2 separate regions of the Homo sapiens genome follow, and region 2 is linked to region 1. Evidence: fine-mapped expression QTL. A gene starts in region 1. The other region holds a variant in brackets. All regions are shown on one strand. Distances are from middle to middle.

What was found.
Region 2: its variant is fine-mapped to the expression of ZBED4 in whole blood (TOPMed, PIP 0.98).

The regions. Positions count from the first base shown.
Region 1 is chr22:49,847,394-49,859,688 of GRCh38, reverse strand. It overlaps ZBED4 (zinc finger BED-type containing 4), which reads right to left and starts at 5,845. Exons shown (of 2, transcript NM_014838.3): 1 at 5,700-5,845. LOC124905156 (basic proline-rich protein-like) reads left to right here and starts at 10,037. Exons shown (of 3, transcript XM_047441701.1): 1 at 10,037-10,091; 2 at 10,135-11,269. The coding sequence starts at 10,037. The coding sequence ends at 11,168. It overlaps LOC105373091 (sterile alpha motif domain-containing protein 1-like), which reads right to left and starts at 10,099. Exons shown (of 2, transcript XM_011530661.3): 1 at 9,609-10,099; 2 at 9,019-9,507. The coding sequence starts at 9,941. The coding sequence ends at 9,019. It overlaps LOC105377205 (a long non-coding RNA gene), which reads left to right and starts at 6,177. Exons shown (of 5, transcript NR_188597.1): 1 at 6,177-7,253; 2 at 8,482-8,607. It also overlaps LOC124905147 and a transcript of ALG12 not described here. RefSeq lists enhancers at 212-749, 2,352-3,012 and silencers at 5,198-5,487, 5,658-6,387, 6,408-6,497.
Region 2 is chr22:49,906,635-49,918,231 of GRCh38, reverse strand. It overlaps ALG12 (ALG12 alpha-1,6-mannosyltransferase), which reads left to right. Exons shown (of 10, transcript NM_024105.4): 2 at 4,389-4,628; 3 at 4,715-4,847; 4 at 7,625-7,798; 5 at 8,144-8,338; 6 at 8,885-8,988; 7 at 10,288-10,511. The coding sequence starts at 4,467. Among named protein-coding and RNA genes, the nearest start is that of ALG12, 6.0 kb to the left of the region's middle. RefSeq lists a silencer at 5-204. The variant G/A (reference allele first, on the strand shown) is at 4,940.

The DNA.
Region 1 (12,295 bases):
CTGAACTCACAATGTTTTAAATACATATTTTCTAGCTGTGTCCGCGAACAGGGCATTAAGCAATAACAGACAAGCACAATGACTACGTCTATGGCCTGGACCTCGGTGTCCAGATGCCTTTCTGCACTAAAAGGAACCCAGGCGCTGTGGAGAAGCAGCTGACGCAGGCCTGGGAAAGACATCACCGTGAGCCTGGGACACTGGGCCAGAAAGGATGCATTCCCAGGACCACGTATGGAGTGAAAAGGACACAGGGGCCAGCTTGGAAGGGGCTCCCAACTAGTCACATTTATAGCTATTTGAGCATCACAAAACAAAAGGCTTTACTAGATTATGACATGGAATAAATAAAATCCACTAGTCCACCTTGATACTCAAGGAAGACAAAGGAAAAGTAAAAATTTGCCCCCACAGAGGTGTCTACTAGACCATCTTCCGCTAAGAATTGGTAATAAAGAGAAAGAACTCAGCATTTTCTAAGACGTAACAAAGAAGGGAAACACAGACAAAAATAAAGAAAAAAAGAACAACAGCATACTAAAGCCAAGGTGCCACTGCCCACAGGTTCTGGGGAGACCAGCAAACAGCATGTGGAGGTCTGATGGGAGCAGAGCGTCCACACACCCCGAGACACCCCCTCATCTAACTCGCCAACTGTGGGGGGCAGGGACACAATTTAAAGGGCCAGTGAGCAAAGTCGCATCCGTCCTCATGGGACAGCCTCCGCCCACAGTGCAGCACACAGCATCACCTGCGCCCCAAACGTGCCCCTGTATCAAATCAGGCCTCCCACCGCCAGATCACAGGGGGTGCTCCGGGGGCACCGGAACGCAAAGAGACCTCACAGCCACTGTGACACGTGGCCCTGTACTCGATTCTGGTTGGGAAAAACAGCTAGTAAAGACGTTGGGGGACAACTTCAGACCGTGGACTGGCTACTGGATGACGCCAAGGGACACAGTCACGTTTTGTAGACGCCATCGATGACGCGACTGTCATTAGACAGTAGAATGTCCCTTTCCCTTTCTTAGGAGAAAGAACACTTAGAGAAGTGTCCAGATATCTGCAGTTTCCTTCAAGACAGTTCAGCACGTGCCAGGTGGCAGCTGGTGGCAGTCACGGTAGCTCCAGCTGGGGGCAAGGGACGTAGGAGTGCCAACTCTGTAAGTTAGAAACTTTATAATAACCTTCAAACAACAGAAATATATTCGTGTTCAACTCAGAGCACACGCACTCTCAACAAGCTGTCGAGTATACCCAGGGAGGCAAAGAGCTATGCATCAAGACTCCGGGCCTGGTTCAGACGGGGACATGGCAGTTTCTCCTCCTGAGGACATAAACTACCATCGGGGCTACACCTGAGTAGCCTTCACCTATTCTGGGGGTGCACAGCAGCATCAACTGCCACAAATTCCAGCAGGAGCCATGGCTCACAACAGCTGCCCACACAGAAGCCAACATCCAGGTCTGGGCTAAACTGAGAAGGGGGCCGGGCACGGTGGCTCACGCCTGTAATCCCAGCCCTTTGGGAGGCAAAGGCGGGTGGATCACCTAAGGTCAGGAGTTTGAGACCAGCCTGGCCAACATGGTGACAGCCCATCTCTACTAAAAATACAAAAACTGGCTGGGCGCGGTGGCTCACGCCTGTAGTCCTGTCCTGGCACTTTGGGAGGCCAAGGTGGACGGATCACGAGATCAGGAGATCGAGACCACCCTGGCCAACATGGTGAAACCCCGTCTCTACTAAAAATGCAAAAAAAAATTAACCGGGCACGGTGGCGCACGCCTATTGTAATCCCAGCTACTCAGGAGACTGAGGAAGGAGAATCGCTTTAACCTGGGAGGTAGAGGTTGCAGGGAGCTGAGATTGTGCCATTGCACTCCAGCCTGGGTGACAGAGCAAGATTCCATCTCAAAAAACAAACAAAAATTAGCTGAGTGCGGTGGCGGGTGCCTGTAATTCCAGCTACTCAGGGAGCTAAGGCAGCAGAATCACTTGAATCCAGGAGACAGAGGTTGCAGTGAGCCGAGATTGTAACACTGCACTCCAGCCTGAGTGACAGAGTGAGAATAAACAAACAAACAAACAAACTGAGAAGGGGAACCCAAAGCTAAAGGTCAAAGACAGTGGCAAGGGGTCTGACTCCAGAAACCCGGAGTCAGAGCTGCTCTGTCAGACGTGCTCAGGAACCCAGGTAAGGGCGTCTTGGAAACGGCACCTTCCAGAGCAAGCCAGCGACCACGCTAAGGTCAGCTGGTCCGTGTTCCATCCCTGAAATGTTCTGGGTCACACGACAGGGTCATGTGGATTGTTCTGCTAGGTGGTTTTGTGGGTCCCCTGTATTTAACACCAGCACCCTCGCCGTGTACCCATACCTTGGGGGTCCGGGCAGTCCCACTAGTGACAGGCCTGACATCGCAGCTATGGCTGAACGCTGCTGGGGAGTCTCTCACTTACAGGATGTGGAGCATGGCTTCTATGACGGAGCAACCAGAGCTCTCCGAAATGCACATGCTCCCGACCCTGCTCCCTGCAGCAAACAGGTGGAGCAGAGACCACCAGGTGGGCCTCGATGAGGAGCAGCTTTGGAGGAAGTCAGCCCCTCAGGGTTTGTCTGTGGAGGTGGCAAGGCAGGAAGGGCGGGGGGCCAGGTCCTCCCGACCCTAATCAGGTAGGGGGCTGCAGCAGTCACAACCCCATCCCCAGGGCCAGGCCAGCATCAGCTGTTTCTATTGCACACAGAGTTTGCTGGGAAAGACATGGGCCATGGCTGCTGAAAAGCCTTCACCTAGAATGAGGTGGGAAGCTGGCTGGCATTGCAGCGCGGCCTTCACCTAGAACGAGGGGTGGGAAGCCGGCCGGGATTCCAGCGCGGCCTTCACCTAGAACGAGGGGTGGGAAGCCGGCCGGGATTCCAGCGCGGCCTTCACCTAGAACGAGAGGTGGGAAGCCGGCCGGGATTCCAGCGCGGCCTTCACCTAGAACGAGGGATGGGAAGCCGGCCGGGATTCCAGCGCGGCCTTCACCTAGAACGAGGGATGGGAAGCCGGCCGGGATTCCAGTGTGGGTCATTTAGGCTGCATGTCCCCTGAATTCCGAAACAACCCGGGGGAGCTGGGAGGCGGCTTCAGCAGCAGGCGCTTGGGCCGGGCAGGAGGTACGCACTGGGATGCCGTGAGGCTGCCTCTGCACCTCATGGACAATGCTCTCCTGGGGCTTCCGCCATCGCCCCCAGACCCTTCAGGGCAACCTCCTCTCCCTATGAGGTCTCCGGAGCATGCTTTCCTGAGAAACTGGGATTACCCCTGCTCTCACCTGCCGGTGTTTCTCCTTGAAGCACTTACTGAGCCTTTTTCTCTGGTTTACGCTGCTCCTCACCACCACCATGTTCCCTACGGCCAGGGCCTTCTTTGAAAACCACCATGGCCCCAGCAGGCAGAGAGGCAAGCACCTCTGTCTCTCCTGCTCCCCTCCGCCTCAGAAATGGCAAAGAGCTTATTTTATTCCTAACAATGCCTCCCAGAATTTGAACTACAAAAGCACATATCCAGTGATGACCAAGGAAGGGATCTGAGGTACTGCAGAATGTAGAAAAACCTAGGTGCTAAAAAGTGGGGAGCAGAAGGGCCTGGAAGGCTGGGATGCAGAGAGGCCCGAATCCTTGAAAGGGCTGAAGCCAGAGAGCTGCTGGAATCCACAGACACTAAAAGAGAAAGCCAAAACCAAACCGCTAAGGGGTGTCACGGGCTAAAGGCACAGTGACTTTCTTACACAGCCAAATGTAAATAAGAGCAATTCCTATAGGTACATTCTCAGGTCCTGAGATTTAAACAGTGAAGGAAACAACGTTGGTAAGGAAGGGCCAGCTTGGCCTCTACCCCAGGGCTGGGCAAAGCCACGCCCAGCTGTTTCACCTGCTCCCTCCTCTCAAAAGACAACCACCACACCAAAGAGAATGAGACCAGAAGCTAAAGCCAGGCAAAGAAAAAAACGCAAAACAAAGTGAAGGACGGCACTGACCACGGTCACTTCCTGCTCCTCATGCCGCCAGGAGTCCACTCCCCAGGGCTCCTCACCAAGGATCTGAGACACACACACACACACACCTTTCGCTAAAGAAGCTGCTTCTCAGCTCCTCTGCACACACACAGAAGTCAGTCCGCTCCCCTAGTAATTTTTTTAGTCTTTCTGCAAGGTGTTATGGACATACTTTGCACAGCTGAGTTACTCACTGTGTGTGTGGAGGGGGTTGGGGAGGAGGTAACCTTAAAGAGCAGAGGTTTTACATCCAACAACATCAACCACCTTATTCAGGAATTACCTGGACAAGAGTGTGTGTTGGGGGAGACCCTGTAACCACCTGTCAAGTGGACTAAAAGTCTTAGGTTTCTTTCCATATAGATTAACTGTGTCCTCACCTCAAAGACCGGGCCTCTGAAGCTTTTTCAAGATTCACAGAATCTCTCTTAACTTGTGCTAGATCTTTTCTTGAAAAAAAGCCAATCATGACAAGCAGATATAATCCGTTTAAGGACTACGGGAAGTGTGCAGCCTTGTACGGACGTCCCATTGGAAACCCTCGGAGTATGGAATCAAACTCCTGTAAACTTTCCTCTTGCAAAGTAACTTTGTTTAGTAATTGCAATTAATTCATAATCAAAATGTGGCTTATTCATAGCACTTAAAAAAAAATCCCAACCAAATCCTTCCTAGCCTCAATTTTGTCACTATGAATGACATACACAGAAAAAATAAAAAACATTTCTGTGTAAAAAGTCGCAGGATGCCCTTGCTTTACCAAACTGGCCTCACTATGAGGTCTGAATGGATTTCTAAAAACGTAATCTGATCAGAGTTAACTTCAAAATAAATAACTTCCCTTTCGACCAACACGAGAACACCAACAGAAGCTTCTGACGGCTCAGCTTGGCCGGGACGTGTTTCCACAGAGGTGCCCGGGTCTACCAGGGCCACCCGGAATAGAAAGGCGCAGAAGGGAGCCCGAGGGGCTGCGATTCTCTTAGCAACGAAGGCGGTGTGGGCCACACAACGGGACAAAAGAAGAAACAAAACTGACTGCGAGCTCATTTGGGTGTAGGAAAACCACTGCAGTCGAAAAACATTTGAAATTATGGTTCGCAAGGCAAGTTACATTTTTATTCATTAAATGTGAACGGTCATCCCCAGAACCACGTACAATAACCTGCCTCGGGGCGCGTCGCAAGGACCCGTCTGGGCTGAGACATGAAGCAGGGCCCAGGTGGCCCTTCCTGGAGGTGGGACGGGAATGACACGTCCAGAGAAGTCCCAGGGACGGGGCTCGCGGGGTTAACTCGACGTGGCCGGGACAGCGCGCTCCCGGCGGACCCGGGCGGCGCCCCGAGCCCGAGCCCCGTCCCGTCCGCCCGGAAGCAACGGCGCGGGCACGTGGGCCAGGCCGGGCGCCGACCCCCGGCACTCGGCCGCTCAGTCGGCGCCGCCCCCGCGCCAGCTGTCAGGGCCGGGGTCCGCGCGGGGGCGGGTCCGGGGCGGCGCCGGGCGGGGACCCCGAGGCCACGGAACCGCGCCCCCGCCCGCCTGGCCCCGGCCCTGGCCCCGGCGCGGCGCAGACAATGGCGCGGCCCGGCCCGGCCCCGGCGCGGTCCGCGGGGGACGGGGCTCGCGGCAGGCGGCGGGGCGGCGGCGCCCGCGCACTCACCTCGGCCCGGCCTCTGGGGCGGCTCCCGGCCGGCTGCGGACGACGGCGGCGCGGGCGGACGCTCCATTCATTACCGCGGCTTTGTCTGCCCCCGCGCCCCTCCCGCGGCCCCGCCGCCCGCCGCCCGCGACGCCGCCGGACGCTGCGCCCCTCCCAGGGCCCCGCGCGGCGCGGGGCGGGGCTGGCCGGGGGCGGGGCCGATCGGGGGCGGGGCCTACTCTCGCAGGCGCAGTGTCCGCGTACCCGCCCCGCCTCGTCCCTGGCCGGGCGGGAGGACGGAGCGCCGGAGGCCCGGCCGCTGGGGCGGGGTCGGGCGGAAGACGCAGGCGCAATGCGCGCTTCGGCTCCGCCCCCGGGTCCAGGAGGGCAAACTACGCAGGCGCAGTGGGCGCTCCGGCGCTGGCGGGCGACGGGAAGGGCTTAGGCGCTCTGGCTGGGCGGGGCGCGGGCGCCTTGGTTTCGTCCCGTGGCTTGGCAGTTGGCAGCGGCTCGGCGCGCACCCAACGGCCCACCGCGGGTTTCCGGGACGGCTAGCAGCGCGGTTCCCGGTCCCGCCCCGAACCCCCTTACCTGGCGCAGAGGCCGCTCAGTGCGGTGCGGTCAGGCCTCGTGGGCTGGGACCTAAGCCGTTGACCCTAAGGCGATCGGGGCTCCCCGCGCGGCCCCCCCGGGGGACGGGATTAACGCCTAAGCCCCAAGCCGGGTCGGCGGGAGGAGGGCGGCCCTCTGGGCGAGCGCGGGGCCGGGGCTGGCGGTGCGGAGCGCACGGGACTCGCCCGCTTCTCAGGGTCTGAAGGAAATGTGCACTTTTAATGTGTTATTTCCTAACACAAATGTTTGAGCAGACCAAATAAACTCTGCATGCTGAATGTGGCCCCGAGGTCCCCCGTTGGTGACACGGCTTTCGGCATTTTCTCGGCCTGAGTGTGAGAGTGAGAGGAGCCCGCGTGGCGGTCACCGGCTGGAGCGGGAGCGTGGAGTTATCACGGCCGCCTCTGCCCGGAGCCCGCCCCTGCCCCGCGGCTGTGCCCCTTCACCCGCACGCCGACTGTTCCAAAGTCCACGTCCAGCCTGCAGCCGGGTTTTCTATGGTGCCTGAGCTAAGAATGCTTTTCTCGTTTTTAAGAGGTTGGGGGAGAATTAAAACAGTATTTTAGCATATATGAAAAGTATATGACATTCAAATATCGGCCGGGCACGGTGGCTCACGCCTGTAATCCCTGCACTTTGGGAGGCCGAGGCGGGTGGATCACCTGAGATCAGGAGTTCGAGACCAGCCTGGCCAACATGGAGAAACCCCGTCTCTACTGAAAAAAAATAAAAAATTAGCCAGACGTGGTGGTGGGCTCCTGTAATCCCAGATACTCGGGAGACTGAGGCAGAAGAATCGCTTGAACCCGGGAGGCAGAGGTTGCAGTGAGCCGAGATCGCGCCACTGCACTCCAGTCTGGGTGACAGAGCAAGACTCCGTCTCCAAAAAAAAATTAAATTAAAATGTCGGTTTCCTAAGGAGTTCAACTGGAACACCACCATGCTTGTTCATGTAGTTAAAAGGTAAACTGCTTTACCTTCCACCATAGCTATGGAGTTGAGACCAGGCACTGACACCCAAAAAGGGCTCCCTGTTTCTTTCTTTTTCTTTTTTTTTTCTTTCTGAGACAGAGTCTCGCTCTGTCCCCAGGCTGGAGTGCGGTAGCGTGATCTCGGCTCACTGCAACCTCCGCCTCCCGGGTTCAAGCGATTCTCCTGCCTCAGCCTCCAGAGTAGCTGAGACTACAGGCGCTCGCCACCACGCCCAGCTAATTTATGTATTTTTAGTAGAGATGGGGTTTCACCATGTTGACCAGGATGGTCTCGATCTCCTGATCTTGTGATCCGCCCGCCTTGGCCTCCCAAAGTGCTGGGATTACAGGCATGAGCCACCGTGCCCGGCCTGGGGATCCCTGTTTCATTCAGAGTGGAGGCCAGTGTTCTCAGGCCTGCTCTGCCCCTGCCATCCCCTCATCAGATCTGCAGCAGCCCCCAGCCTCCTTGATGCTTGCTTTGGGGTCTTCGCACTGACTTCTTGTCTGCCTGGACTGCTCTTCCCCTCTGCCAGTGTCAAGCTCCCAGACGGCTGCCCATATGTCAGCATAGTGGGAGGCTCTCCGGGGCCATGCTCTAGGAAGTAACACTGCGCTCTCCTCATCCCCTCTCCGGGCTCTGACACATCTGACACACTGTATATGCCTGTGTCATGACTGCCCCCCAACAGCCTCCTGCTAGAATCAGTGGGAGGGGGGACTTCTTTGTTGTATGTGCTGAGGGAGCATGCCCAGTGCCGAGAGCAAGGCCCCCTACGCTTTGTGGAGTAGGTTAATGGGGCCCCACAATTGCCTGGCACTCATGTGCAGAAATAGAAGATTCCTGGGGCCAAAGAGCAACAGCTCTTCCCAAAGGGGCCTGCCGGTGAGTGAGTGAGTGCAGGTTGACAGGTCCCTCCTAGTGCCTTCCAAATTGTGCAGGGCAGCCAGGTGCGGCCTATTCTCTGGCCCCTCACAGGAAGATACTGTTTTGTATGTCGGGTGGCCCTTGGACTAAGTGCCCAAATGGGGCACCCTGGAGCATGGAAGGGCACACTAGACATCATGGGGCCAGGACCCAGCATCAACTGGGACTGTTTCGGCAAGCCAGTACCCCATGCCTCCACCAGCTGCAGTCCATTCATTTAATCTTTGATGGGCACTTTCTGTGTGCCCAAGATACAATATCTTATTTTTTCTTTTTCTTTTTTTTTTTTCAGTCTGCAAGTGCTTGGTACATACACAGATGGTATTTATTTGCTGTTTGTCTTAAATTGCATTCTTATGCATCATAGAGACTGCGATAAGGAGAAGAAAAAATATTTTCTACAGGACCATCCAAACATGTAAGTGGCTTTTCATGGGACAGTTTCCCATCACGGGAAAGACATAAGTCGATTCTTAGTCATCCAGAGTGTCAGTATCTTATTTTTTCATTCATCTGAACCAAAGTGTGACATCCCAGGGCCAGGTGTTTTATCTGAGTTCCATGCACAGACTGTGAGCCCCACCTGTACAGGGCAGTGCGAGTCAGGGATGCTCCGCACTGAGGCAGAAGAGCAGCTGGTGCCCTGGTCCTCTGTCCACTGAGGCTGCAGGTGGACCCACAGCATCTTCCGAAGGCAGGGAGCCCTCCGTGCTTGGAGCACTGTGGCCCTGGAGGGTTCGCCCTCATGTGATGTGACTTTGGTTGAGTTTCTTAGCTGTGAATTAAGATTATGAGCCCAGCTTGGGGGTAGGGCATGGAGCTGATGGTGTCACATGTGGAAGCAGCTGGGTGACCCCGAGCCCGGTGACCACTGGTCACTGGGGAGGCACAGACCTCGCTGTGGCAGGGTCCTGAGGGCCAGGGCCTCAAAGGAGGGTGGCTGTGTCCCTGGGCCCCGCGGGAGTAAGGGTGTACACCTGCCAGTCCCCTGCCTACAGTGGTGGTGGGGTGGAGCCCCATGGTCCCTTCCATCTGGAATCTCAGACCTGGCCCCCCTCTGCCACCCTGTGCCTCCCGTCTGCCTTTCAGGGTAGCAAGAATGCTGTGCGCCCCACTGGGGAGGGAGGTGGGGAGGACTCCAGAGCGTCCAGGTGGGGGCTGCTGCAGAGGAGATGGTTTCTCTCGGGTGCAGAGGAGGGTTGGGCCCTGGGCACCTACTGGTCACTCTTCGCCACGACGGGGACCTCACCACGTTGTCCCTCATCCACGTCACCCGCCCAACCCACGCGGAGGGTCCTGAGGGCTTCACCACGCAGCCCTGAAGGGGCAGAGCTGGGGTCACACAGGTATCGGAAGCCCACGCTGTGGCCCCAGGAGAAGGTTCTGGATGTGGCTCCTATGAGTGAAGGGTGGACTCACAGCGCTGCCGGAATAAAGGGAAACCACAGGCAGGAGGGAAGCGCGTCCAGGATCCGCGGCCACCGGCCTCTCAGACTGTCTTCTGGGGCCAGGTCGCGAGGAGATGGAAAGCGGGGGCATCACAGGCTCGTCTGAACCCGCGCGTTCATTCGGCCACACCGACCCCAAACCCCTGCATGCGGGCAGGACCCCTGGTTCTCCTGCGCCCACCCCAGCCCTGCTGGCCGCCGGGGCATTTGAGGGATGGTTGCGGGGGGTCGGAGGGTGGAAGGGGCGTCGGGCAGCCTCGGTGGGGAGGGGAAGAGGCTTCCCGTGCACTATGGACTCCCGCATTCGGGAAGGGAGGCGCTCGGGGTTGGGGAGGGAGGAAAAGGCGGCTGTGTTCGGGGAGGGGGCAGCGAGACCCCGCCCGGGCTACGGGTTGCAGGATGGAGCGGACGGGAGGAAGGAGCCCTGACGCCGCGGACCCCACGCCTGCCGGCCGTCCCCTCCCTCCCTGCCTTCCTTCCTTCCTCCCTCTCCGCAGAGGCAGCGCGGGGACCCGGCCGGGGTGGGGCTAGGGCGGTGCGCCCCGGAGCCTCCAACCTGGACCCCACCCCGGAGGCGCCGCGACCGCGCTCCCGCCGCCTCCAGGAAGGTGCCCGGATCGCGCCGGCGACCGGAGGACTCTGCGCCCCGCCGCCTCCCACCCTGTCCCGCCCCGCGCCTGTCGGCGACCCCGCGGGGCCGGTCCCCGTCTCCACCTGCAGTCCGGGGCGCGGCGCCCTTGAGGGAAGCGGGGCTCTGGGATCCCCCGGCCTGGGCGTGGGACACCCCACGGTCCGCACGAACCTTGGTGGCCCGGGCCCCTGCTCCCCCAGAACAGCGCCCAGGTCTCGGAGAAACCCCCCGAAGCCGTGGGCCCAGACGCTCCCGGGGGACCTCGGTGGGACGGGCAGGGCGGGCGCCGCGGGCGAGGGGACGCGCACTGTCCCCGGGCGAACCAGAAACACCCCACACCGGGCACCTCCCCAGGAATCGCCCACCCACCCCCATTGTTCTCCACCAGGTTTCACCTTACCACCCTCCCCCCAGGCATCTCCCCCGTTGCATCGCCCCCACGCGGGCATCGCTCCCACCCGGGCATCTCGGCTCTGTCCTGCCCTGGGGTGGCCGCAGCCCGCGGGGAGGAAGCGCGGCGAGGCGCCCACACCGGGAAAGTGTCTCCGTGACTCTGCGAGGTTACACTCCGGGTGCGTCGCTGCGGGCTCGTGGGCTCGTGGGCTGCAGCCCCCCGCTCCTGTCGGGTGGACGAGCCCCGGGCCCGCGTGGAGCTGCTCGGTCAAGGCCGGCCCGGGAGGGGCGCGGCGCAGGGCGGGCAGGGGCGGGGTCCTAGGTCAACGTCCAGCCCCAGACCCAGCCCCGCCGCCGGATCCACCGTGCCTCTGTTTCCCCATTCCTGAGAAATCGGAACGCCGGCGGCACCCCCTTCTCCGGGCCGGAGCCTGCGCCCTCCGGATTGCGCGCCTCTGTCCAGGCGGCGGCCGGGGGTGGGAGCGCGCAGCGGGCCAACTTCCCTAAAGGGAACTGTCGGGAGGGCGCCCAGAAGGGAAAGACCAGGAAGCGCTGGGTGCTGAGCTGGAGTCTGGCCCCTTCCTGGGGGACCGGGGAGGGGGCTGAAGGTGGGGAGAAGACCGCCGGGGCTGCTAGGGGGGCACTGAGGGAGCGTCCAGGGGGAGAACTCTGGGTGGGCGACGCCGCAGGGGAGCTGCCTGGCAGGGGCGAGGGCCTCGGGGAAGTGGAGCTTCTGGCCGAGAGCTGCATCTGTGGCCGGGGAGGGAAAGGGTCACAAGGGCAGTGCGCGCCGGGAGGGAAGCTCAGGCCGGGGGGAAGGGACTGCGCGGCGGGGACAGGTGCGTCGGGTGCTGGACAGTGAGCAGGAGCCCGCCGGTGCTCAGGTCACGAAGGTGCTGGAGCCGGGGGAGCTGGAACGCAAGGGGGTTAAGGGAACGCGCTGGGAAGGGTGGGGGCGGCAGCTGCTCCAGGCTGCGGTGGCCTTGGTTCTGTCTGAGGGTCCATGGGTGGAAAGGCATTTGGAGCTTGTGTTCATAGCTGGGACTGCCAGATTTGGTGGATAAAAATACAAAATTGCGTGGGACCGGACGGGCGCGGTGGCTCACGCCTGTAATCCCAGCAGTTTGGGAGGCCGAGGTGGGCGGATTACCTGAGGTTGGGAGTTCCAGACCAGCCTAACCAACATGGTGAAACCCCGTCTCTACGAAAAATACAAAATTAGCGGAGCATGGTGGCGTGCTCCTGTAATCCCAGCTACCAGGGAGGCTGAGGCAGGAGAATCGCTCGAACCCGGGAGGCGAAGGTTGCAGTGAGTCAAGATTGGGCCATCCAGGCTGGGCGACAAAAGCGAATCTCTGTCTAAAAAAAAAAAAAAGTGCACAGCACGTACATATACTAAAAAATTATTATCTGGAATTAAAATGTAACTGATTGTACCGTATTTTATCTGCAACCCTAATCATAACAGGCATGTTGTTCTCTGTATATAGTCCAGTCAACAGCAAAAGTATGTAAAAAGGTGAAAAAACTACTTATGACACATCCCTAAAGGAATAACTTTAAGAACAATTAGGTGTATATTGCCCAGGGTTTTTGTTTTTTGTTTGTTACCTTGAGTCGGGGTCTTGCTCTGT
Region 2 (11,597 bases), 59 kb before region 1:
AGGCGGGCGCGCGGCGAGACCAGGGAGGAGGCGGGCGAGGGCGCGACCCGAGCTGGCGCTGGCGCTGGATTCCTGAGGCCTCACCGCGCATGTCCACGCGTCACAGCCCCGTGCTCCTTACCTGGGGCTGCACCCCTCACTTGGGGCCGGGCTCCTCACCTGGGGCTGGACCTGTCACCTGGGGGCCAGACCTCTCACCCGGGGGCCGGACCTCTCATCCGGGGGCCCGACCTCTCACCTGGGGCTGGACCTCTCACCTGGGGCCGGGCTCCTCACCTGGGGCCGGACCTCCCACCTGGGGGATGGGTTTTTCACCTGGGGGCTGGGGATCTGGGGTCCACTTAGGGTCTCTGGGGGCTGGGGATCTGCATTTCTACAGGCGCTTGAGGTGATGAACACTCGCTCATGTTCAGGAACCCCTGGTTTAAATTAGGGGAAATAAAACGTGCAGCGTCTGGATTTCAGAGAACTCCTGCCTGTGGAAGGAAGGAGTGCAGATAACACTGCACATTTAAAAAAAAAAAAAGTAACATCTGATTTGACCAGTTTCTTTTCTGTTTTTTTGAGACGGAGTCTCACTTTGTCGCCCAGGCTGGAGTGCAGTGGCGCGATCTCAGCTCACTGCAAGCTCCGCCTTCCAGGTTCCTGTGATTCTGCTGCCTCAGCCTCCTAAGTTGGGATTACAGGCACCCACCACCAGGTCCGGCTAATTTTTGTATTTTTAGTAGAGACGGGGTTTCACCATGTTGGCCAGGCTGGTCTCGAAGTCCTGACCTCAAGCGATCTGCCTGCCTCAGCCTCCCAAAGTGCTAGGGTTACAGGCGTGAGCCACCATGCTTAGCCTGATTTGATCAATTTCGGTAGAGGCCTTAAAATCTGGATTGATGGGGACAAGAGGGTCTTTGCAGGTCATTCCCTAATCTGAGATGCCATTGTTCTGTAAACCACCATTTTAAAGTGTCATGGCCTGGGCCCGTTTTAACCTGTGGGTGCTCTCGAAGCACCCGTCACTTAGATTAGCCACAGCTGCTGCCCAGCTGCCCAGCAGAGTGGGCTAGTGCAGGACAGTGTCCGTTCACCCTCGCCTGGTGGGGGGTTCGTCGTGGTTTTCGTGCTTGCTGGTGTTGACTTGGTCTTCCCGTGCTCCTGGCAGAGAATCCAGACTCACCCTTGGTCTTCTCATGCCCTCGAAAGTGAGCTGTGCTGGTCATCAGCAGAAGGCACACCTTGTTGGGTCCGAGGAGGTGCTGGGGGCCCGCCAGGAGTGTCAGAGTCAGCACGTAATGTTTTCACCCCACAGCTGAACTCTTCCTTGCTGGGGAACTCCCCTGGGTGGAGAGGTGTGGAGTGGGGTTGTGGGGGACTGCCAAGCAGCACTTGCTGTGTGCACCTCCCACATCTTGGCACGTAGATGCTCCCCGTTCCGTTTTATTTTTTATTTTTGTAGAAATGGGGTCTCATGATGTAGCCCAAGTTGGTCTTGAACTCCGGGCCTCAAGCAGTACCCCCCATGTCAGCTTCCTGAGTAGCTGGGATTATTTTTGTGGAGATGGGGTCTGGCTCTGTAGCCCAGGTTGGTCTTGAACTCCTGAGTAGCTGGAATTACAGGCGTGAGCCAACACATCCGGCTTGCTTCCTATTTCTTTTTTTTTGAGACGGAGTCTGGCTCTGTTGTCCAGGCTGGAGTACAGTGGTGCGATCTTGGCTTGCTGCAACCTCTGCCTCCCGAGTTCAAGCAATTCTCCTCCTCTGCCTTCCAAGTAGTTGGGATTACAGGCGCACACCACCATGCCCAGCTAATTTTTGTATTTTTAGTAGAGATGAGGTTTCACCATGCTGGCTAGGCTGGTCTTGAATTCCTGACCTTGTGATCCACCCACCTCAGCCTCCCAAAGTGCTGGGATTACAGGCATGAGCCACCACGCCCGGCCGTTGGAACATATTTTTATTTAATTTAATTAATTTATTTATTTATTTTTGAGATGGAGTCTTGCTCTGTCGCCCAGGCAGGAGTGCAGTGGCGCGATCTCGGCTCACTGCAAGCTCCACCTCCTGGGTTCACACCATTCTCCTGCCTCAGCCTCCCAAGTAGCTGGGACTACTCGCCACCACTCCAGCTAATTTTTTTGTATTTTTAGTAGAGACGGGGTTTTACCATGTTGGCCAAGCTGGTCTCGATCTCTTGACCTTGTGATCCACCCGCCTCAGCCTCCCAAAGTGCTGGGATTACAGGAATGAGCCACCGCTCCCGGCTGCTGGAATTTTTAATAAGCACGTGAGCTGGTGTGATGAGAACCCCATGTAGGAGTTTTTACCGATTTCTTCTTCGGCAGCCTTGTTGAGTGCCTACTGTGCGGCAGGCTTTGCTGATTCAGCAGTGAGTCCACCAAGCAAGCCCTGCCCGCAGGATGAGTCCAGCAGGGGAGGTGGCAGCGAGGCAGCCTTCAGGCCACAGCGGCTGGCCTCTGTCCTTGGTGCTGAGGCTGCGCTGGTGGGAAAAATCATCCAGCATCAAAAACCCCCCACCGTCAAAAAGCTTGTGTCTTAGCAAGTGGGAGACAGCTGAGTGGGCCCTCCCTCAGTTAGTGATTCCTAACCTAGTCCTTCGACCTTTCTCTTTGTTTGATACCAAGTTTATTTTTTTAAATTTTTTTATTATCTATTTATTTATTTCTGAGACGGAGTCACGCTCTGTGGCCCAGACTGGATTTCAGTGGTGTGATCTCGGCTCACTGCGGCCTCTGCCTCCTGGGCTCAAGCGATTCTCCTGCCTTAGCCTCCCGAGTAGCTGGGATTATAGGCGTGCACTACCATGCCCAGCTAATTTTTGTATTTTTAGTAGAGACAGGGTTTCACCATGTTGGCCAGGATGGTCTTGATCTGCTGACCTCGTGATCCACCCACCTCAGCCTCCCGAAGAGCTGGGATTATGGGAATGAGCCACCGCACCTGGCCCTCAGCCTCCCAAAGAGCTGGGATTACGGGAATGAGCGACCGCGCCCGGCCCCAGGTTTTTATATTTGGCAAAGGAGAGAACTGCATACCATTTCAGTCGTAAAATTATTAAAGCTTTCTTTTTTCTTTCTCTCCACCCCCTGCCCACCATATCAAATAGGGTTCTCCTTCCTTCTAATCTACAGATTTTCCTTTGGTTGCCATCTTTGTATACTTCTTAACTCTCCGTTTGATCAAAAGATAGTTTTGGCTGGGCATGGTGGCCCACGCCTGTAATCCCAATACTTCAGGAGGCCAAGGTAGGAAGATGGCTTGAAGCCAGGAATTCCATACCAGCCTGGGCTACAAAGCAAGACCCTGTCTTTACAAAAAATAAGAAAACTTAGCTGAGTGTGGTGACCCACACCTGTAGCTGCGGCTACTCAGGAGGCTCAGGCAAAAGGATCCCAGGAGTTTGAGGCTGCAGTGAGCCATGATCACTCCACTGCACTCCAGCTTGGGTGACAGAGTAAGACGCTGTCTCTTAAAAAAAATTTTTAAAGTAGTTTTAATAAATGGTAAGCCCTGGGGTTCTCTCTCCCTTTGCTTCTGGCCCTTCTGGTTTGGATTGAATAAAATCAAATCTGTTTTAAAAGAAGCCAGAAACGTGAAGAGTTTGCCCCCTCCCCTCCCTTGGTCTCTCACGTGTAGCAGCTGGACATGTTGCTGGCCTCTCAGGAAGCTCCGTGCCACGGGCCCCTGAGGTTGTCCTGTTAGTGTTTGGGGGACCCATTGCCAGTCTTCCCAGGCTCACATGCAGGCTCATGGCCAGTGTGGTGCCACCTTTGGGAAAGCCGGCCATGGCTTCTCCCAGCCCCCAGGGTGGGGTTCGGCGCAGGCGTCCACAGCCCCATCCCACCATTCCTGGGAGCGGGGGCTTTGCTGGCCACTCGAGCCCTGTGTCCCAGCAGCTGTACTACGTTCAGTTTCTTGCCCTCCCGGGGCCCCTGTCCACCACTCTCCAGCTTGGTGCCTCCCACCCAGCTAACTGGCACCCCTCAGCCTCCCATTCCGTCTTCTTCAGCCGGTTCCCTCGGGGCCAAGCCTGGGTTTTGCTGACTCTCCTGCCAGATTTAGACTGGGGGGCAGGGGCCATTTACCACCCTCCATTGCCCTCGTGGCCCAGGCCTGGTCAGACTCAGGGTTCTGCGACTGAGATCCTTCTGCCTAGAAAAACATTCACAGAGCTGGAAGTGTCAGATCACTGGTTACAGTATGAAAGATTCTCAAGTGTGATTTTTTCTCCAAACTTTCCATCTTGATGCGTTTTCAGATTTGTAGTAGTGCGACTAAGACAGTAGTTCAGAGAATTCTGCTAACCCTTTACCCGGATCTCCCAAACGTGAGCGCAAGCGTGACTTTCGAACCTCAGGAATCTGTTTCCACTTTTCCAGCATGCGTGGAGTGGCAGTGCTAACGGCTGGTGTCTCGCACTGTTGGCCTGTGAAGGTACGTGAAGCTGAAAGCCTGGAATGGCTGGAAAGGGGTCATCAGGCAGGCGGCCCCTGCTGCTGGGGCTGCTGGTGGCCGTAGCCACTGTCCACCTGGTCATCTGTCCCTACACCAAAGTGGAGGAGAGCTTCAACCTGCAGGCCACACATGACCTGCTCTACCACTGGCAAGACCTGGAGCAGGTGAGGGGCCCCTGCTGTCTTTGGGGAAAACCTCATGTTACCAGCTGGCAGGGCCCCGGTGCACTGACCTGCCCTTCTCCTCGCAGTACGACCATCTTGAGTTCCCCGGAGTCGTCCCCAGGACGTTCCTCGGGCCAGTGGTGATCGCAGTGTTCTCCAGCCCCGCGGTTTACGTGCTTTCGCTGTTAGAAATGTCCAAGTTTTACTCTCAGCTAATAGGTAAGGGGGTCTTCAACAAAGGAGGAGGGAGTGAGGGACTGTGGTGTCATCGGGTGACCTCAGCGAGGCCGCGGTCCCTCCTGCCCAGGAAC[G/A]CTGTCTGTTAGTCTTGCCTGCCCTCGATCACCGTGGCATGGCGGCTCAGAGCAGGTGCTCAGGTCAGGCCTAAGACGTCTGAGTCAGCCCCTCTGTGCCTCCACACTCTTGACTGTGAAATTAGGGGTGACGGCAGGTACAAGAGAAATGCCGACTGCCTGTGAGGCAGCTCTCGCCACCTGAGCCTGCTGCTCCCGCCTCACCTGGCAAGCCCCCATGGGGTCAACAGCCTTTATTCCTGCAGAAGCAGCACCATTTGCCTTGGGGAATGTTACAAACAGAAACCTCACATTCCCAGAGGCCACCACTGCAGGGCCTGTGTGCAAATCCTGGGTCTTTCTCTGTGCCCACATGAGGACTTTAAAAAAAAAAAATTAGAACGTTTTGTACATATTGTTCTAAAAACCGATTTTTTTTTCTTTTTTGAGACAGGGCCTTGCTGTGTCACCTAGGCTGAAGTGCAGTGGTGCAATCATAGCTCACTACAGCTTTGAACTCCTGGGCTCAAGTGATTGTCCCACCTCAGCCTCCCACAGTGCTGGGATTACAGGCATGAGCCACCACGCCCAGTCACACAACCTGAGTTTTTGAAGTCAGCAATCACCACTTTTTTATTTCAGTACGCTTTTATTGCTTTTAATACCCAGACATGCTTCCAGCGAGTCAGTCCAGCTTGTGTGGAGAGCTTTAAGAAGTAGCACGTTCCTGGGGAAGGAGCAGTTCTGCTTCTTGAAGGGGCAGATTGGGAACGGAAACCCACCATGGCACGGGGACAGCTGGACAAGCCGTGCATGTCCTGTAGAGGCATCAGGAAGCCCCAAATGGGGAGGAGTTGGGGGGCCACGAGCCAGGGAAAGGAAGTCCACAGGCAATTCCGGGGCTGAGTCCACATTCCCTTGGAAGCTTCTGCTTATTCCAGGGTTGGCAGCAAGAGGTTGGGAGGTTGGGCAGAGCTGGGTGGACTCCAGCTGGACAGAACCTTGGAGGGCTGCAGCTTCAGCTGGTGAACGGGAGCCCACCCTGTGTCCTTCCTGATCCCACTAAGGTGACCTGGAATTGCTAGTGCCCCCCCCAGCCCCTGCCACAGGCCAAAATCCTTCCTCTCTGGATGAAGAGCATGTCATCCTGGGGCCGAGGGTGATCCCGGGGCCGAGGGTGATCCTGGGGCCAGGCTGATCCCGGGGCCGAGGGTGATCCCGGGGCCGAGGGTGATCCCGGGGCCAGGCTGATCCCGCGGCCGAGGCTGATCCCGGGGCCGAGGGTGATCCCGTGGCCGAGGCTGATCCCGGGGCCGAGGGTGATCCCGCAGCCGAGGCTGATCGTGAGGCCGAGGCTACCCTTGTTGGGCACGGGGTTGAGATTGTTGGGCATTTGGGAAGATGGAAAACCAAGAGAAGAGACGCAGGGGATGGACCTGATGGGGAAAAGGGGAAGCGGGGCTTTGCTGGGGTCTGTGAATTGTTTAAAAGCCCGGGGGAAATTCCAGCACCAAAAATACAGCAGCTGGAGCCAGACCCACTTGTGAGTATCAGTGAAAAATGTCCTATTAAGACATTCAGACTGGGCATGGTGGCTCACGCCTGTAATCCCAGCACTTTGGGAGGCCGAGGCGGGGGGATCACCTGAGGTCAGGAGTTTGAGACCATCCTGGCCAACATGGGAAACCTTGTCTCTACTAAAAATACAAAAATTAGCCGGGCGTGTTGGCATGCGCCTATAATCCCAGCTACTCCGGAGGCTGAGGTAGGAGAATTGCTTGAACCCGGAAGGCAGAGGTTGCAGTGAGCCGAGATTATGCCACTGCACTCCAGCCTGAGCAACAGAGGGAAACTCTGTCCTTAAAAAGAAAAAAAAAAAGACATTTGCAGTCCGAATCCAGCAATCAGTGAAAAGAAAATGCCTGGTATGCACATGGGGTATTCTGGGAACAGCAGGTCCAGCCCTCAGACATCCGTGGCCCCCTTGGCAGTGCCTGGGTATCTCTGCCCATTGGCCCCCACAGCTGCCTGGACCCAGTTGCTTCTCACATGGCTTCGAAGTTCCTCTGGCCTTCTGGAAAGGTAGCAAGAGCCACCCAGAAGTTCATTTTTCTTCCTGTTTTCAGTCTCTTGCCAGCGGCTGACAGGCCGGTCCACGGTGAGGATGTGTGGTCGGCTGGGTACTGTCCTGGGCACACCTGCCCCCTCACCACCTCCTCATCAGACCACCAGCCCAGAGGTGGCTCCTGCTGTCAAATGGGGAGAGGGGTCCTGACCCCCTTCCTGCCTGGGAGCCTGTGTTCCTGCCACATCCCACCTCCTCATGGCTGCTGGTTAGAGCAAGGTCTGAGCCCGGCCTTTGCAAACATTTCCCCTGGAGATGCCACAGCCCGGTGGGGTCTCTGGTTTAGTGTAGGGCTCAGCTCGTGGCACCCCCAAGTTGTGTGTCCTCCCTCATGCTTCAGAGAGCAGCCCCCGCAAGGGTCCTCAGTTCCCGACAGGAGCGCAGGGGGCCTGGGTCCAGTCGTCTGTTTTCAACATGGAGACGATGCCCTCAAGGCTGCTTTGCCTGACGTAGCCGTCAGCTGGCATTGCAGCAGCATAGAAAACTCCATATAGAAAGATCTGTGTAGAAGGACCCACGTAGGGGGCCCCACTGGATACTCCTCCACTGCAGGCTCAGGTGCTGTCACTGTCTTTGTTTAGTTAGAGGAGTGCTTGGACTCGGCGTGATTTTTGGACTCTGGACGTTACAAAAGGAAGTGAGACGGCACTTCGGGGCCATGGTGGCCACCATGTTCTGCTGGGTGACGGCCATGCAGTTCCACCTGATGTTCTACTGCACGCGGACACTGCCCAATGTGCTGGCCCTGCCTGTAGGTACGTAGCTGCCGGCCGGGCCTGCACACCCATGGTGCCGGGCAGGGGCTCCCCTGAGTCGGGCTGTGCAGCTGATGGCAGTGCCTCCCCCGTAATGGCCATTCCCCACTGGGTTCCTCAGGATGGTCTGTGACCTGAAACCAGGCTCTTTGTTTTCCATGCTGGGTTGGGACACACTTCCTGGCCAACAGCATAGGTGCGGGGAGCGGCTCTGAGCAGTTTCTTTTCTGGGATATTTGTGTGGCTTTTATAATAGGAAAAGGAATCACCCTTCACTTCCCCGGGTGTTTTCTGGGCCGGGTGGGCCCTGTGTCTTGACGAGCACCCTCCCGCACTGTCTTGCAGTCCTGCTGGCCCTCGCGGCCTGGCTGCGGCACGAGTGGGCCCGCTTCATCTGGCTGTCAGCCTTCGCCATCATCGTGTTCAGGGTGGAGCTGTGCCTGTTCCTGGGCCTCCTGCTGCTGCTGGCCTTGGGCAACCGAAAGGTTTCTGTAGTCAGAGCCCTTCGCCACGCCGTCCCGGCAGGGATCCTCTGTTTAGGTAAGTCAGTCACTGTGGGATGCTTCTAACTGGATTTTGTTTTGCCTTGTTTTACAAAGGTCAAGAGAAATTTGGGAGGTTTTCATCCCCATGAAATAAAATGACCCTAAATTTAGCAGTGTTGAAAACATTTCAATCCTAAGCCCCCTGCCCGGGGATCTCCAGGGGGACCCACCGTGCGCCTTAGGAGCCCCTGTTCACTGGTCTGTCCCTTGTCCTTGGGCTGGGGGAGGCCACAAGAGTGGAGGGCGGCTTGTCCCTGCGCCAGGCGGTGGTTCTGGGCAGTGGTGTCCTCGACACAGTTGGTGTCTTTTTTCTTTTTTTGTTTTAGAGATAGTCTTGCTCTGTCACCCAGGATGGAGTGCAGTGGCATGATCATGGCCCACTGCAACCTTGAACTCCTAGGCTCCAGCAATCTTCCCACCCTGCCCAACCTCTTTTATATGAAAGCAGCTTGTAGTTTCTGTAGTGATGGGGGCTGCATTGTGGCGGGATGTTTACTGATGGCTGTGTTTGCGACTAAGAAACTCTATTTTATTTTGTCAGGACTGACGGTTGCTGTGGACTCTTATTTTTGGCGGCAGCTCACTTGGCCGGAAGGAAAGGTGCTTTGGTACAACACTGTCCTGAACAAAAGCTCCAACTGGGGGGTATCCTTCAGTGTCCGTGCAGGAGGGCGATGGGTGGGACCTGCAGCCACATCTCCTGGGCCTCCATGGGCAGTGGAAGCAGCTGCTTCTCCCTTCTCTGCAGCGTGGCTGCAGGGTCAGGATGGAGCCCCTCCCTCCCACTTGCTCCTGGGAAATGCTGGCCATGGGAGGTGAGGTCCTGGCTGCCCTCTCTCAGCCAGGAAACAGCCTGAGGGCTGGAAACAGCCCTGCCCCAGATTACCCCAGCCTCTCCTCTGCTCCTCGGACAATCTGCTTTTTTTTTTTTTTTTTTGAGACTGAGTCTCGCTCTGTCGCCCAGGCTGGAGTACAGTGGTATGATCTTGGCTCACTGCAACCTCCACCTCCCTGGTTCAAGCAATTCTCCTGCCTCAGCCTCATGAGTAGCTGGGACTATAGGCGCACGCCACCACACCTGGCTAATTTTTGTATTTTTAGTAGAGGTGGGGTTTTACCATGTTGGTCAGGCTGATCTTGAACTCTTGAACTCAGGTGATCCACCTGCCTTGGCCTCCCAAAGTGCTGGGATTACAGGTGTGAGCCACCACGCCCGGCCCGGACAATCTGCATTTAAAAAGTGCTTTCTTAGGAATTATGTCAAACATACACGCATAGATGGAACAGCATAACGAATCCCAACATGTGTGTCACCCGTGACCGTCTGTTTTTTGTTTTTTGGTTTTTTTTTTTTTTTTTTTTGAGACAGAGTCTCACTCTGTCGCCAGGTTGGAGTACAGTGGCATGATCTCGGCTCACTGCAACCTCCAACTCCCTGGTTCAAGTGATTCTCCTGCCTCAGCCTCCTGAGTAGCTGGGATTACAGGCACATGCCACCATGCCCAGCTAATTTTTGTATTTGTAGTAGAGACAGGGTTTCACCATGTTGGCCAGGATGGTCTCGATCTCTTTACCTCGTGATCTACCCACCTTGGCCTCCCGAAGTGCTGGGATTACAGACATGAGCCACTGCGCCCGGCCGACCATCTGTTTTTAACAGTGAAGAAAAGGGTACAGAGACCGAACGTCCTGTGGCCCTTGCTGCCTTGGTCCTGCCTGGAGGGGGCCCGACGCCCAAGTGGTATGTGTGCACCCGAGCTGTGGCCTGGGCTCTGTCTTTTAGGAGGGGCCTGAGGCCTGAGTGGTGTCTGTGCACACGAGCCGTGGTCCAGGCTGCATCTCTCAGCACAACTGTCTTCAAGCGTCTTCTCCACCTTGACCCTGCCACCTAGCCCACGGGCTCATGCGTGGACAGGTGCGTGGCCTCCTTAACCCAGCCCGCAGACCTCCCCGCTGCTGTGGTACTTCTACTCAGCCCTGCCCCGCGGCCTGGGCTGCAGCCTGCTCTTCATCCCCCTGGGCTTGGTAGACAGAAGGACGCACGCGCCGACGGTGCTGGCACTGGGCTTCATGGCACTCTACTCCCTCCTGCCACACAAGGAGCTACGCTTCATCATCTATGCCTTCCCCATGCTCAACATCACGGCTGCCAGAGGCTGCTCCTACCTGTGAGTGCTCTTTTTGTGACATGCATTTTTATAGTTTCATTGGAAACAGGTTCACTGATTTACTGTTGGGGGGATGTATGTGTGTGTTTAATTTTTGAAACAGGGTCTTGCTCTGTCGCCCAGCTGGAGTGGGGCTTACTGCACCCCTCAACTCCTAGGGGGTTAAGCCATCCTCCTGCCTCCTCCTCTGGAAGTGCTGGGATTGCAGGTGTGAGCCACCAGGGCTGTTTTTTAAGATAAACACAGGGTGTGTTGAACTAGGCGCTTATGTCAAAGGAGGGTGACCCCAGTCCTCTCTCCTCCCTGAGGGCTGCATGGGATGGGACCGGCCTGGCATTGTGCTGACAGAGGGCTTTGCTCAGGTGGTCTCTGTCTTGGGTTAATTTGGTGACTGGTCCACATATGGTGATGCACCAGCGGTCCCAGTCTCTGTCATGGGAGAGTGACACTCACATAGGTAGCAGCGGCAGAGGGCAGGGGCAGCCAGGCCTGGGAGGCTCTGAGGGCGACAGGTCAGGTAGAGGAAGGGCGTTCGTGGCCATCCTGACAGGGCCTCGGGCTTGAGGGCGTTTGTCAAGGCGGGTCATCTGGCTGGAAGAGGGGGATGGTGAGGGAGGTGCCTATGGCTGGGTGCAGAGGGCCCAGCGTGGCCCAGGCTCAAGGTCCTGTGGAGGGCAGGGGGCTTCCTGCGGGGAGGGACTGCAGGCAGCAGGTGATGGAGGTGGAGCTGGGGGCCTGGCAGGGCCTGGGGAGGGCACTGCCTGGGCTGAGGGTGGGGTGGTCTGAGCGCGGCTGCCACTCAGTGTTGCAAGCCTCAGGGAGCCAGGAGAGTCCATCACTGCCGGGCCCTGTGGGTGCTGGGGAAGGACCCGGGGCTCAGGCCCAGGAGAGTCCATCACTGCTGGCCCTGTGGGTGCTGCGGAAGAACCCAGGGCTGAGGCTGGCCAGCTCTGTGCCCGTTCAGAGTTTGCTGCCTTGATGGGAACAGGAGGCCAACTCAGGCCACGCTGGGCATTGAGGGGCGGCAGGGCTACAGGCCAGGAGGGCCGCGGCCTGGGGCATTGAGAGGTGCCCACTCTGGCTGGA